2 separate regions of the Homo sapiens genome follow, and region 2 is linked to region 1. Evidence: fine-mapped expression QTL. A gene starts in region 1. The other region holds a variant in brackets. All regions are shown on one strand. Distances are from middle to middle. Region 1 holds the start of LINC02248 (long intergenic non-protein coding RNA 2248). Region 2 overlaps GABRB3 (gamma-aminobutyric acid type A receptor subunit beta3).

Region 1 (8,532 bases):
TATGAAACATAACAGAGAGCCCAGAAAAGGCTCACATAAATATAGACAACTGATTTTTTTGACAAAGGAGCAAAAAAGCATTTCAATAGAGAAAGCATAGTCTTCTCAACAAATGGTGCTGGAAGAAATAGACATCCACAAACAACAGCAACAACAACATAATCTACACACAGACCTCACACTTTTCTCTAAAAGTAACTTAGATCAGGGATCTAAATGTAAAAAACAGAACAATGCAACCTGTAGAAGACAGAATAAGAGAAAATCTAGGTGACCTTAAATTTGGTGATGACTTTTTAGATACATTGCCAAGAGGGCAATCTATGAAAGCAAAATTTTATGGATTTTATTAAAATTAAAAAAGAGTTGGACTTTATTAGAATTAAAAACTGTTGCTCAGTAAAAGACACTGTCAAGAAAATAAAATGAGAAGCCACAGACTTGGAGAAAATATTTGCAGATCTGATAAAGGACTTGCATCCAGAATACACAAAGAACTGTTAAAACTCAACAATAAGAAAACAAAGCAATTTGAAAAAACAGGCAAAAGATATGAACAGCTCACCAAATAAGCATATGAAAAGATTCTTAACATCATATGTCATTCGAAAATTGTAAATTAAAGCAACAGTAAGCTATTCCTATACATCTATTAAAATGGTTAAAATCCAAAACACTGACAACATCAAATGCTGGCAAGGATAAGGGGCAGCAGGCATTCTCATTCATTGTTGGTAATACAAACGGTCACTTCCCACACAGCCAGTTGGGAAGAGAGTTTGGCAGTTTCTTACAAAATTAAACATATGCTTACCATATGATCCAGCTATTATAGCCCTTGGTATTTACCAAAATGAGTTGAAAACTTCTGTCCATACAAAAACCTGCACACAAATATTTTAGCAGTTTTATTCATAATTACCGAAAGTTGAAAGCAACCAAGATGTCCTTCAATAGGTGAATGGATAAAGGATAAACTGTGGTGCATCCATATACTGAATTATTATTCAGTGAAAAAAGTAAAAAAGTATTATTCAGTGATAAAAAGTTTGAGCCATCAAGCTGTAAAAATACATAAAGGAAACTTAAATGCATATTGCTAAGTAAAAGAAGCCAATTGGAAAAGACTTCATACTACATGATTCCAACTACCTGATATTCTGGAAAAGGCAAAACTACAGACACCGTGAATAGTTCAGTCATTGCCAGGGATTTGGGAGAAGGAAAGGACAGATAAACAGTTACAGCACAGAAATTTTTAGGGCAGTAAAATTCTTTTATAGGATACAGTAATGGTGAATACAAATCATGATAAGTTTGTCAAAACCCGTAGAATATACAATAAAAAGAATAAATCCTAATGTAAATTATGAACTTTAGTTAAAATAATGTATATATTGGCTTATCAACTGTAACAAAAGTACCACCCTAATCCAAGATGTTAATACTAGGGTAAACTGGCCGGGCGTGCTGGCTCACGCCTGTAATCCCAGCACTTTGGGAGGCCGAGGTGGGCGGATTACCTGAGGTCGGGAGTTCGAGAGCAGCCTGACCAACATGAAGAAATCCTGTCTCTACTAAAAATATAAAATTAGCCAAGCATGGTAGCAGATGCCTGTAATCTCAGCTACTTGGGAGGCTGAGGCAGGAGAATTGCTTGAACCCGGGAGGCAGAGGTTGCAGCGAGCCGAGATCACGCCATTGCACTGCTGCCTGGGCAAAAGAGCGAAACTCCATGTCAAACAAACAAACAAACAAACAAACAAAAAAGCTAGGGTAAACCGTGTGTGCGTGTGTTTGGGTGAATAATAGGTATAGATAGAACTCTCTGTGCTATATGCTTAATTTTTCTGTAAGCCCAAAGCTGCTCTTAAAAAGTGTATTAATTTAAAAAATGAAAAGAGAATGAAAATAAAACATATCAAAATTTGGGGGAATACAACTAAATGCGTGCTTAGAGGGAAATTTATAACATTAAAGCCTTATATTAGAAAGAAAGATTTAAATTTATTAACCTAATATTCTACTTAGGAAAACTAGAAACTAGAGAAAAGAATAAAATTAAAACTAAAACAAGCAGAAAGAATAAAATAGAATAAATTAGAGCAGGTTGATATAATTAATAACAGAAAACAGAAAAACAACAGAGGAAACAAATCTTGTTCTTAAAACAGGATCAATACAATTGCCATAGCTGTAGTGAGGATCATAAAGAAAACAAGAAAACCTAGATTATTAATATTATGACTCAAACAGGAAGCATCATTGCTGATCCCACAGACATTACAAAATAATAACAGAATCCACAAAGCATCATTATGCCCATAATTTTGGAAACTTATGTGATATAGACCAATTCCGTGGAAGATTAAAATTATCAAAACTCATTAAAAAAAGAAATAGATAACCAGTAGTCCTATATCTATTAAAGGCATTAAATTTGCAGGTAAAAACTTTTCAATGAAGAAAATTCTAAATAAATTTTGCTCAGTAAAAGAAGCAAGACCAAATGGCTATATAAATACATGTATATAACCTTACCAAAAAGGAAAAAGCGAAATCATTATATCAGAAAACAGACTGGTGGCTTCCAGGGGCTGGCACAGGTGGGGTTCACCTGCAGTTTCCTCAGAGCCACTCTGTGTACTCAGAGAAGAGGTGGTCAGGTAGGCAGGGGAGTCAAAAGCAAGTAGTGGCTAACTTTCTGGGGACCTCAACAAATTCTCTTTCAAGTGGGCTTTGACCTTGGATATGCTCCTTAACATCTCTGAACTGCAATTTTCTCATCCCTTCAATCTCCCACTCTAGAAGATGAAAGTCAAGGAAAGTGGCCGCAACAAAAGGTTGAAGAAAGTGCCCAGCCCGGGCTGGGCAGAGATGACAGGTGGTAGTGCCATGTCAGAGGGGAAGGCACCCCTCCAGGACAGAGGGCCTAGGGATGCTGCACAGAGAAGGAGGGCTTTGAACAAAATACAAATAAAACCTGGTTACTAGGAATTAATTGGCATCAGGAATCAGGAGCTGGGAACCCGGTTCTGCACAGCTAAGCTTCACTAGGCCACTTCCCCATTCTGGCTGTTGGTGCAAGTGTGTGGCCACATAGTCTCCAATTTCCCTCCAGTCCAGCACTTTATGTGTGTGTCTTAAACAAGCCCAGTTGGATGTACTGTGGGAGCCACACTTTTTTAGTTCCCCTTTCTGTCCAATAGCTTCTCCAGCATTGCCAACGACACAGACAACATGCTTCGCAGCAGAGAGGATGCTCTGCTTCTCACTGCTGTCACTTGTTTTCCATTGTGCCCTCATTTTTATCTTGCTTTATGTCCCATGGAGCTGAGTCAGTCACACCCATTCTCCTTTTACTCAGAATCATCAACCAGATAGAGGGTCAAAGAATGCAAGCTTTGACTCTGATCTGTTTTAAATCTTTAAAACAAAACAGTGAAGTGGCCTGTTAGATGCTGTAGTCAGTCCCAGCAGTAGAACATATTAATAGAAATAAGGTCTCTAGAGAGTTGCTGTTTTAATCTGAAATCAGTGCCGCTCACCCATCTACCACCTGAACCCTGTGATTCAAGCACGTGCTGAGTCAGTAGGACCACCTCTCAGTGCAGCTGGCTGGTCCAGATAGTAACGTCAACACTCTTAGAAATGCAGGAATCCCTTTTCTAGCTTCAGAATTTATTTCCTGACGTTCTAGGGCAGACATAAGATGATGTTTACCACTCAGTTATTTTGCTGTTACTAAGTGTGTAAGATTTTTTTAAAATCAAGTTTCATATTTTATTGGTATTTTTTCTTTTATTTTCAGTTGACACATAATAATTGCACATATTTATGGGATATGGAGTGACATTTCTATATGTATATAAAATAGATCAAATTGGGGTAATTAGCATATCTATTACATCAAATATTTATTATTTCTTTGTGTTAGGAACATTCAAAATCTTCTAGCTTTTAGAAAACATAAAGTATTCTTAACTATATTCACCCTCAGTGCTATAGAGAATTAGAACCTATTTTTACTATCTAACTATAATTTTGCTAAGTTAGTGAGATTTTGATATACATATATATATATATATATATATATATATATATATTGGAAGAATCAGTTTATCCAAAACAAAGTAAAATCTCAAAGGCTTACCTAAGAGGAGTCCTAGGATTCAGGAGTGCACAGTGCCCTCGGTTCTCACTTGATGGGCCGTCCACCTCCCTGAGACCCTCTCATGGCCTCAGGGGATTCTCCCGATGGCGGGGAGGGCTGCTGGGAAGCTGCTTCCCACCACGGCTGTGTTCCCATGGGGCTTACTCAGGCACGGTCAGGCCCACACTGTCATCAACACTTAGCTTTCTCTCTCACCCACATCAAGTGATTTTATGAGGCACGAGTTACCAGCATCTCCATGTTACAGATAAGAAAACAAGGGTCCTGGTGTTAAATGACTTTCCCAGATCACAAGTGGATGGGGGTGGCTCTGGGGCCCAGAAGCAGGCAGGGTCTGACTCCCTAGGCCAAAGCTGAGCCTGCAAGCCATCCACGTGCAGTCCCACGGGCCCCAGAACTCAATGCTCAGCCTGTTATCTCCCACACCTGTGACTCTGCCTTTTGATTCTTTTCTTCTCTGACAAGTGCCAGATGGTTCCACCTAAACCAGGCACTCAGGATCATTCTTCATTGCCTCCTCACCCTCACTCTTTTCCAATCTAGGAATGAGCCAGTTCTGCTGAGTTTACTTCCTTAATACTAACCCCTACACTAGTTGCCTTCTTCAGGTTGCGTTTAAATAGTGTTGATCACAGATTCTGGATTAAGCACATCTAGGTTTGATTCCTAGATAAGCTTCTGAATAGCTGTGTGACCTTGGGCTAGGTACTTAACTGCTCTGTGTTTCAATTTCCTCACCTTTAAAATGGAGTAATAATACCAGCTAACTGTATAAGATTGTGTGAAGATTAATTCATGGACATGTTTTGAGATGGAGTCTCGCTCTGTCACCAGGCTGGAGTGCAGTGGTGCTATCTCAGCTCACGGCAACCTCCACCTCCCAGGTTCAAGCGATTCTCCTTCCTCAGCCTCCCAAATAGCTGAGACTACAGGCACGTGCCACCACACCCAGCTAATTTTTGTATTTTTTAGTAAAGATGGGGTTTCACCATGTTGGCCAGGATGGTCTTGATCTCTGCCCATCTCAGCCTCCCAAAGTGTTGGGATTACAGGCGTGAGCCACCGAGGCCAGCCAATACATGCACATTTTTTTGAAGAGTACATGCAAAAAGTGAGTGCTTATGTTTGCTGCTGTTTACTGCATGGTGGTGCCTGACTTTTGGAGGGTGTACTTTGTTAAATGAGGGTGCCACATTTCCAAAGATGCTTATAGGCAGGCGGTTCAAGAACATGGGGACATGTTGGTCATAACCCTCGTGGATATGGCAGCAGGAGGCCGCATAGACATAGACCAAGTGGGAAAAGCAGACCAGGGAAGTACAAGAGCTGGAGGTAATTGCCTGGAAATAAAGGCTGGAGCCAGAGGAAGACCCAGCCCAGCAGATACATGTAGCCCTAGAAGAGAAGATGGATTCAACTCAGAGGCCCCTAGCCAGGAGTGCTCACCAGCCATTATATGCTTCAGCTTTTCCAATGAACAATGGGAAAGTTCCTTTAACTCTCAAAATAAGTGCTACCTTCTAGGCTCCAGAGTAAGCCGGGCACATTCCCTCCTCCCTGCAGTGCCCCTAAGAAGCAGCAGCGAGTTTCTAAAGGGACATCAGCTCCATGTTCTGAAGACTGGTTGTCTTTTTTGAGACGGGTAGCTGGCCCCAACTAAGGTATCAGGAGCCCGGGCAAGTACTTCCACATGGGGCCCTGACTCAGCAAGACACCAATGTTGAAGAACAGAACAGACAGGAAGGGGCTAGGGAAAAGTGTGTCACTTGGAAGGCAAGCAGGGGCTGGGATCATTATGCCCACCTCCATGATGCATCTTGACCTCGCCAGGATGAGCTCTGGAGTCGGGGTCTTCCCCTCTCCACACTCCCACCCCACCAGTGGCTCTCAGGCTGGCCATTCCACTTGTCCCACTCCACAGATAGCCATGGGCTCACAGCCTAGCATGGCCATGCCACCACAGAAGGACCCGCTCCCACCTAGGATTCATGCCATGTAAACAATGACCTTCCGTAATCTCATGTGTGTGACACTTTGGTGTAGTAAAGCCAAGTCTGCCCTTTATACAGAGGAGGGAAGTCAAAGGGAAGCTGAAGGGTAGGGCTGCCAAGGGGATACTCCACAGGCATCCACTTTGGCTGCCAGGGGCTCCTAGGGAAAGAGCTGGTTGATTGACATCCAGATTTGCTGAGCCCATGCTTAGAGTGAGAATTTTTTTTAAAAGATTGGAAAATAGAAGAGAAAATCTGGAAAGAGAAAGCACCATGAATTCCCTCTTTCTATCTTTATCAACAAATAGTAGAGAGAAGGGCAATTTTTTAAGCACCTATTAAAACTTTAAAAAGGATAATATTCACAAGATGTAAGCACCCTAACTTGGGGAACTTGGTTTCCTTCACTGTTGTTTACGACTATGATCTCCAGAATCCAGAACAGTATATTCAAAACATCTCTCTTCAAAGTGTTTGTGGAATGGACTTAAGACTCAGCAATTCTACTTCTCAGGATTTGGTTGCCATTTTCCGCCTTTGCTATGGTATTGAGGGACCCCACGATTCCAGTGTGTTACGGCAGTAACTGCCTCTTTCTCAGCCATTCCGTGCGGGGGCTGCAGGTCGGCTCTGGTCAGCCTTGGGTGTGTTCTTGCTCTGAGACCCAAGCTGGAGGAAGCAGCTCTAATCTCAGATATGAGATAGATATGATAAGGTAGATTTTTGTGGAATGAACAAATCCCCCCCAAATATCCTATTGGATGAAAAAACACATTGCCAAATAATATGTTTTGAAAAAGAAAAAGTACACAGCACTGCCTTTAGCAGGTGCATGTATGTCTATCCATGCCCCTATGAAGGATGGCAAAATATTACCAACCTGATGGCAGGTACTAGCCAGGAAGAGGAAAGCTCCAATAAATGCTGGGCTGGAGCTGCTATTCTTCCAATGTGAGATGGTTGGCTTAAACTGTTCTGCCCAAGAAGAGAAGGAAAATGAAAATCTGACATAGCTCCAACTTCTTGGACACTCTTTCTTCATCTGGTAAGGCAAAAAGGGCAATTTTTAAAATGCCAGATGGCTTTGCTTATCAAATGCAACTCATGTGCTAACAAGTTCCTTTTAAAAGTGAACCTGAAACCACGGGCTAAATTTGGTTTAATGACACATTAAGATTTCTGGCAATGGTTTGTTCTGTGTGGGAAGAAACTCCAGGGAGCCAGGCCTTGATTTGACCCTGAGAGGTTGTGCGGATGACATAAGTCACTCCATGTTGTTTCGTGGACCCTAGTGGGGTTTCTCAACCACGGAGCTCCCAGACAATGATCTGTTCTCATTCTGGTAATTTTGATTATAAGGAAAAAAGAGCACATAACTCTTTTGATCCTAAGTGAACTCTTGCTGAACCTGACAGATGTTCAAGCTTTTCATTTTCTCCTCAAGCAAGGCTTAATGGAGATTTTGTTACCAGGGTAATCACCATTACTCTGTTTGCTCTATTAATCTAGGCTCTCTAAATGTTGACTGTAGATATATAAATATGGCCTAAGTATCCATTTTTCCACGGACTTATCAGCTTGGGTTTTCATTTTGCAGTTTTACTCTAATATTAGTCCCTAATTAAACAACAACAACAAAACCTTCAACTGCCTTTGCTCTAAATCACAAACTGGAAAAAAGGAATTTCACTTGTTCTTTGGATTGCATCAACACCAGCACATTGCTCTATCTAGAAACGCCTCAAGATGTCTGGGCTTTGGAATCACACAGACCCCAGTCTCCGTTGGTTGTTCATCCACTTCCTAGCAGGGCAAAAAATCACTTGACTTTTGGGAGCCTACATTTCTCCCCCTGTGGAGTGGAGGCAATGACCCAGACAGGGTAGTCTGATTAAATAACTAAATAAGGTAGAGGATTAAATAAGATACTGGATGTGTGAAAAGTACTAGAGCTGCTATCTGGAATATAAGGCATGTTGTATGAATGTTTGTTTCTCAAATTCTGATTCCGATTGTTTATGGGAAGATGAGAAATGACCTGCTGTCATAGATTGAATTGCCGTGGGTGAAACTACTCTTTCTGAGATGCCTCAGAGTGGATGCAGGAGCACACCTCCAAGAGTGAGTACAGTAATAGTGCTCTATGTGGGAGGGGTCAGCCCCACACTATTCTACACACTGATGGCCTCACTTTGGCCACCGTGGACCTCAGAGCAGGCACTCACCCCTGCTACTGAGCTGTGAGTGTTGCCCAGGCCCTGGACTGCTGGCTGCGGTTGGGAAGGAATATTGGACATACTTCCACCCTCAACAAGGGGAATTCTATTTCCTGTTTTACACTTAACATCACGTGAACTTAGCTATCCA
Region 2 (8,000 bases), 170 kb before region 1:
TTACCAACTTTTCCCAGGACTTTAAATTGAATAACGTGTTTTCTTTTCTAATAAAATGTAAGTACATGTGTGTATATGGATGACAAACATGTGACTTGCATAGTTGTAATCAAGATCAGATTTATTTCCCAGGAAATAACACATAATTATGGCTTGAGAAAATCAGGTAGCTATTCCTAAGGGTGTTAAGTGGATAAGAAAACCACTCTATGAAGAGTAAAGCTGCAAAAAACTGAAAGTGCTGTTTTAATTGTTATGTATTTCTAATAGGTATCATAAGCACAGTTCTCTAAAAAAAGAAAAAAAATCTCCAGGACTTTTCTACAGCCTGCAGATCTTCCCCAGTAATGTCAGTCTTTATGTAGCTTTTACTTTAAAAATACGTATATTGCTAGATTACTCTTTGTTAAACTCTTTTTTCACTTGGAAAATTCAAAGATACATTTGTAGAGGCAGATCTAAATTATGCAGAGCTGTTAGCTTATACAATTTCAAGCACCCCCTTTTAAGAAAAATAATATGAAATATACAAATACAAAGTTGCTGGGACCCCTCCCCAAGCCTAGAAGAGGCGTATGAAAGTGGAGACCGATCTGAAGCATCTGCTACAGAGAATTTGCCGTCACTGCGATAGTTAGTGAAATATGAGTACCAAGGAACCATGATTATCTGACATCACAAGGGGTGGGGTGTACTGAAAATGTGCATATCTGAATTTCCCAGCCATTACAGATTCTGTCCCTCCCTAATTGTAAAGTATTGCCTTCTACAGTATTAAATCGTTAATACCCCGGAAGTGAGTTACATTCAACCCAATTTCATTAAGTTATATGAAAGTAGATTCCACTTTTTCTTCATGACAGCATTATTAATATAAACAAACTGTGCCTCTGTGGCTTTGCTGGGATAAAGGCATGGGCTGGCTAGGGTTGCTGAGGCTTCAACATTGGAGGATTGACGCTTGTGCTCTGGGAGGCAAGCATGAGAGCCAGAGTGAAGGGGATATTCACTAGAGTTAGGGTGACCCCGAGGTCAAGAGGGCAGCTGTGATCTTAGGGCTGTGGGTCTGGCCAGACAAGAACCCAACAGATCCAGCTCTCAGAGTATGACTGACACCTGCACATGCATTCCCTCTGTCCCTCCTGCCAATACAAGACTGAGTCTAGATCTACAGTCACTGGGAAATGTCAGTTGGTGAATTCAGAAAAAGTATGACGCAGTGTCAGGAGCACTGAGTAACATCATCATCATCATCATCATCATCAATACAACAGACAAGATTAATAAAGGCTGAAAATTATCACATAGTTAGGTGCCACATTCTCTGCTAAGGCCATTCATGTAGTTTATCTGTTCTGGAGAAGACTCACAGCACAGTACGAAGTATTATTGCTCCAGTTTTACAGAGCACAAAAATAGAATACAGAGAAGCTAAGTAACTGGTACGAAGTCATATAATTACCAAGTTTCAGAAGAAAGATTTCAATCCAGTTAGTATGACTTCCAGACCTTCTCCCTTAACTACTGCATATAATTCCTAAAGTGTCAGTAAAACTACAGTAAAGAGTTATTTGGTCTACTATGTTGTAAAAGTCATGGATTTGTTTAAGAAAAGAAAAAAGCTAACCAAACATTATGAACTCTTATTATTGAGGAATCCCTCATAACTGTTAAGATGCTACTGAGCTCCATAGGATACAGCTATAGTTTGGAGGGCTTTCATTGGAGAAATCCCCCTTCCTGCCACCCCTTCCCAAGCACCTAGTCTTATAGCACAGCTTTGAAATGCTTACAGTGCTTTTTGCATTCATCCTAAGGGACTGCACTGTGATCAATACACATTGCTTCTAAATGCATGATAAAGGTGCTGCCTCTGCATAGCTAGGACGGGTGGGGCTCGGCAGAGGCCTCTATTGAGGGCTCACCCTTGGGCTCTGGGCACTGTTGGACCTGGACTCAACGCGGGAGGGACTCAGGGCCTGTTCTGCTGGCTCTTCAGACAGCCGTGCTCCTCGGCTGCTCTGTGGGCTTCAGCATGATATGCTTCTGCTGCCCAGGGTCTGACCATCAGATACATTGAACTGTTAGCGTTAACGACCACCAAACTTTAAAGTGGGAAGTTGTAATTAGATGGCCTCCCTCAAAACCCTCAGTGAATACAGGTTGGGTGTCCCTTATTCAAAATGCCTGGGACCAGAAGTGTTTTGAAAATCAGATTTTTTTCTACTTTTGGAGTATCTGCATTATACTTAGTTTGAGCATCCCTAATCCAAAAATCCAAAATCTGAAATGCTCCAATTAGCATTTCCTTTGAGCACCATGGAGGTGCTCAAAACGTTCCAGATTTTGGAACATTTCAGATTTTGGATTTTTAGGTTAGAGATGCTCAATCTGCAAAAGTACTGATACTTCTAAAGGTAAAAACGTATACTGATAAAATTTAGGCCAGATTATTTTTATCATGAGGAGGAGAAACAAAATATTTTGACTAAATAATGCAAAGAAATTATATTTTTATTTCATATTCATTTTTATAAATACAGCTTTCAAATACAATATTTCATACATAATCTAAATGACAAATAAGTTGAGGCTAGCAATTTACAGAAAGACTTACAAGCCTGGTGAACGTACAAAAAAACACGAAAGCCACCACCCAGCCATTTCCTGTACTGCAGCTGGATGATTTCCCTTTAGAGAGCAGAAGGTCAAGGCAAGGCCAGGAAGCCTAGAGGCTACCGAAGAATGATTTTTCTGTAATGATGATAGTCATATGATTATTTGTTGTTAGTGTTAACAGTGCCGGTTACTATTTATTGGCACATCAGAGCTTTTCAGCCATTGCCATTAGATTTCCAACAGCTCGAAATGATGGCTACAGACCCACAGAGGCAGAGCTGGGCTTTGGGTCTGGGCCATGTGGCTCCCCTTTACAGGCTGTGGACCACCACAACACACCACCATCCACAGTATCCCCCATAGCAGGTAAAGCAATAGAAGGACTTAGTAAATGCATTGGCCTCTTAAGCTAAGAACTCATGTGGCATGTGGGTCCAAACTAGAAAGACCTGAAGTACTCACTGTGAAATCTTATTGTTAGGGATTCCTGAGCCTGTGCCAATCAGCCTGGATCCAGGGTCCTAGCCCAGGTCCCTCTGGGGTTCATTTACCAGGCTGAGTGCCTGTGAGATGTGCTGGCTGTACCTATTCCTGTGTGCCTTCAGCCCATTGTCTGGGACATCTGCCGAGGCCTGTGTCATACATGTCCATTCAAAATAGCCAGCAGGAGAGGCAAAGTCGTGACTAAAGCAAAGCGCTCGGTCTTCCCAAATCCAAGTTGAAGGGGGAGAGACGGTAGTGGCAACAACATTACAAACTTTTTGAATAATGGTGAGAATGCCTAATTTTGTAGCATTTATGTGGTGTTTTCACATTTATTTGTAAACAGTAATTATCCCATTGCCATTTTCAAATTTAAAAAGTCCCCAGGTGCACATGAATGTGATGTTAAAAGAGAATCTTAAAATATTCTGACATCTTGGATTTCCATACATTCCGTCAGCAACCATGGTTTGCAGTTCTACATAAAAAGAGTTTCTCAAGTCTTCAGTTCTCTTCTTAGCTTTTAGTAGCAGTTCAGAGCTCAGTGGAGGGAGCGCTTGTGTTGGAGATGGAAGACTGGGCTGTCTAGCTTGCTCTCCAGCTGATTCCCAGGCCAGCTGAGCTCTGCAGTCTCAAGGTTCTCCCTGTGGGACACAGAGGATGAGGATGCTGCCTCCCAGGATAGGATGGGAAATCAGAGGGCATGAAATTGGAATGCTTAGTAAATTCAAACTCTGCCCTGGAGGGCTGGGCTGGGACCATGTGCAGAATGGCCTGGGCTCCGTCCCAGAGTACATATCTGGACAGTGCTGAAATGTAGGGCTGGCACTACCTCTTGGCCTCAGTGATGTCATGTGGGTTTTGGGTTACTGAGGATGAAGGATTATGGTTAAGCTCTCTCCTTTGAAAGTCTCCTTTTTCAGGGAAGCCTGACAAAGCAATGCGGAGGAACCTATTCTCTTTATTGGGTCCTGAAACCCACATCTTCACATTCAGTGGCATCAGTGGCATACGTAGAAAAGAGCTCAGCCCTCAAAGCTGTCTTGCTTCCTTGAGACATATTAATATGTCAAAAATACAGTCTCCAAGAGAGCGCGTCAGCTGCAGTACTACCATCCCACCCTACCACAAGGGAGTGATCCGTGCCTTTCCTGTAAGCGCAGCGTAACTTAACTCCACAAGCTCTGGGCATGTCACTGACTTGCCTCCTGGTGTCTATGGCCTCAGATGATTCAGTGCAGAATCTTATGTCTATTGCTATGGGAGGGAGAATTGCAATACATGGTCCACACATGGTTTTAGACTAAATTGAGCTCTATTTGGGAAACAATGAGATCATCCATACAATACTATGTAAAGAATTCAACATAACGACATTTAAAAAAAGGATCTGATGAGTTGCGCCAGAGTATGGTGGGATTCTATAAGATGAATGAAATCATTAACCCTTAACTTGAGCAAACATTTCCTAAGCAGCTTGTGTACAGATTCTTTCTTAGTTGAGGAGGGAAGTCGCTCTCTGAGATCATCTTCCCTCAGAAGCTTCACTCAGCTATTTCTTTCTCTTTGAGCTCAGGACTGGATCTCATGGCTAATAATTTTAAAAATCATTGCCT[C/T]ATTCCTCTTGCTTCCAATAAGCATTGTAGTAGGAATTATTTTCTTCTCACAGGCTGCCTCACTGAGCTCTCGCTCATAGCCTTGCCTCTGCAGCCACAGACACCTCAAATTCATTCTTTTTCCTGGAGGTTTCTCATCTAGACACTTTGTGCTTTATGCTAAATTCTGGGCTTATTTTTATTTTTTCCAGCATTCATAAAAACCACATTCTTTTTTCCTGCTCTACATATCTCTTCTTCTACTCTCAAAATTCCATCGTGTGTGATAGCAAGGTGTAGTGGGCAGGGGGGTGGGTGGGGGAGGGAGATGCCCTGCACGGCTTCACTTCCCCAGAGTACAGATGTCAGCTTGCTGTTCTGAGTGGTGACGTGCGGTGCAAATGACAAGATGTATGCTCTGTTGCATTCCAGTCACCCCACAGTATTCAACCCCTTATCTCTGACTACTTAAAGCTGTTTGAGAAAACATAAAAGGAAAGTGAAAAGTGAAGACCAATGTGGCAAAGTTTCAGCCTCTCACCACTTTGTTTCTTTTCTAGGGATCACAACTGTGCTGACAATGACAACCATCAACACCCACCTTCGGGAGACCTTGCCCAAAATCCCCTATGTCAAAGCCATTGACATGTACCTTATGGGCTGCTTCGTCTTTGTGTTCCTGGCCCTTCTGGAGTATGCCTTTGTCAACTACATTTTCTTTGGAAGAGGCCCTCAAAGGCAGAAGAAGCTTGCAGAAAAGACAGCCAAGGCAAAGAATGACCGTTCAAAGAGCGAAAGCAACCGGGTAGGCTCTCCACCACCTTGACCCCACCTGGTCCCTGCAGCTCAGCAGCTACTGCATTTACTTGCATGATATTTCTTTGTTTTTTCCCCAGTAGTGTATGTCAAGCCACACACCCTTCTTGTACTTGTGATATAGCCCTTATGACATGGCACCCAGGTGTTTTTTATTCAGGGGTTGCTCAAACCAGTCCAGTGGAGTCCTGGCCATCTAGCTAGGACTGGCCAGAGTTCACTGAAACCAGTGGTTGTAGGCTTACACAAAGAGGACTGTTGGATTGGCCAACAAAATTGACTTTTGACATTTCCGTGCACATTGACCCTGGCCCGGTTGCTTTTTGCCCAGGTAAAGCATGCCCAACAGTCACTTTCATTACTCCAGTCTACCCTCAGGGCACAGACCTAGGCTTTCTTCCTCTCACCAGTAAGCCCCTTAAAACAGCGTCTATCTGGATGGGCAGCCTATTGAGAAGTGGAGTGCATTCTTGAATTTGGGTGAGGGCATTTGGACTGGGGCTGGTTAATCTCTGGCCTGGTGTTGAACACAAGGGAGAGGGTCAACATGGAGCTGGCAATGAAAGACTCCCTTGCCCTTTCTGAATTCTCCACTTACAGAAGTGAGTAACAGGGCCTAATGGTTTTTTAAATATACTTGCATCAGCTTTGTGTAGGACTTGGGCAGGCTTGATGATCATAATCTGAAATATTTCCTTGTGCATGTCACAGGGTTTCCTATAAAACCAATATTAGTGTTGATGCTGGAGAAGCCAAAATCATCTATAGTTTCCTACAAAGAGAACAAAACCTGTGGGTCTGGAAAGAATGAAACGCTGGGGTGGAGAGTGTGAATTTGTTCTACGGAAGCATTTTTCCAAAATGTTTCAATATTCCTTTAGTTGTAAAATTATCAATTTGATGATCCAGCATGCTGCCATTCTTTGCACTGGAGCAGGCACACCATCTTTTGTCCACCTGCCCAGTGGCCACAGTCTTCTAGAGAAAAAGCAAAGTCCAAAAGGAATGCACAAGGCAGGAGCAGTGCTCTTTCTGGAAGCTCTCATAGATCTGCCGTGGCCCTGGCCCCTCCCGGTTGTGTTCTGCAAAAAGCCAGGGTTGGGCAGACCTAGACACTTTGTTTTATGAAGTCCATGAACTTTCTAAAGCCCTTGCACACCCTCCTCCAGCCCAGCCCAACTCAGCAATGCTGTTACATCCTTCCAACCACAAAGCCACTTTATCTTTAGATGTCATTTCAGCTTATATAAAAGCAGTATGTTATTGTGATTATAAACAACATTTGAATGAAAGCACATTATAGTTCCAATATAATTTTTAAAATTTATCTTTCCACCTCTTCTATCCCCTCAAATCCTCAAGTATATATTTCTACCTGTTTACATGTTGGGTTTCTTCCCACATTTTTTTTTTAATTCTTCTTGTTAAACTTACTGTTAGGCCATTGTTCTGTTGCTATAAAGGAATACCTGAGACTGGGAAATTTACAAAGAAAAGAGGTTTAATTGGTTCACAGTTCTGCAGGTTTTACAGGAAGCATGGCAATAATGTCTGCCCGGCTTTTGAGGTGGTTTCAGGAAGCTCACAATCATGGTGGAAGTCAAAGCAGGAGCTGCAGGCAACTTACATGGCAAAAGTAGGAACAAGGAGGAGGGGAAGATGCCACATACTTTGAAACAGCCAGATCATCTCATGAGAAGTCACTGACTATCACAGACAGCACCAAAGGGATGGTGCTCAACAATTCATGAGGAATCTGTGTCCCCACCCAAATCTCACGTCAAATTGTAATCCCCAGTGTTGGAGGTGGGGCCTGGTGGGAGATGATTGGATCATGAGGGCGGTTTATCATGAATGGTTTAATACCACAATACCACCCTGCCTGGTTCTGTCCTCGTGAGATGTGCCTGCTCCCCCTTTACCTTCTGCCATGATTATAAGTTTCCTGGGGCTTCCCCAGAAGCCAAGAGGTGCCAGCACCATGCTTCCTGTACAGCTTGCAGAACTGTGATCCAGTTAAACCTCTTTCTTTATAAATTACCCAGTCTCAGGTATTTCTTTCTTTCTTTCTTTTTTTTTTTTGAGATGGAGTTTCGCTCTTGTTGCCCAGGCTGGAGTGTGATGGCGTGATCTTGGCTCACAGGCACCTGCCACCGCGCCCAGCTAATTTTTATATTTTTAGTAGAGACAGGGTTTTGCCATGTTGGCCAGGCTGGTCTCCAACTCCTGACCTCAGATGATCCACCTGCCTTGGCCTCCCAAAGTGCTGGGATTACAGGCGTGAGCCACTGTGCCTGGCCCAGTCTCAGGCATTTCTTTATAGCAATGAGAGAATGGCCTAATACACCTCCCACCAGGCCCCACCTCCAGTACTGGGGATTACAGTTCAACATGAGATTTGGGCAGGGACACAGATCCAAACCATATCACATACTTATTTCTCAAGCCTATGGAGGTTTTCTTGCTCTATCCTGTGCCCTCCATGCC

The links. PIP is the estimated chance that this variant, and not a neighbour inherited with it, causes the effect. A credible set is the group of variants that fine-mapping cannot tell apart.
Region 2: its variant is the best candidate, but not a certain one, in a credible set for the expression of LINC02248 in atrial appendage (GTEx, PIP 0.60).

What each region holds. Positions count from the first base shown.
Region 1 is chr15:26,390,866-26,399,397 of GRCh38, reverse strand. LINC02248 (long intergenic non-protein coding RNA 2248) reads right to left here and starts at 4,341. Exons shown (of 6, transcript XR_001751453.2): 1 at 4,154-4,341.
Region 2 is chr15:26,558,434-26,566,433 of GRCh38, reverse strand. It overlaps GABRB3 (gamma-aminobutyric acid type A receptor subunit beta3), which reads left to right. Exons shown (of 9, transcript NM_000814.6): 8 at 5,258-5,502. Among named protein-coding and RNA genes, the nearest start is that of LINC02248, 170 kb to the right of the region's middle. The variant C/T (reference allele first, on the strand shown) is at 4,719.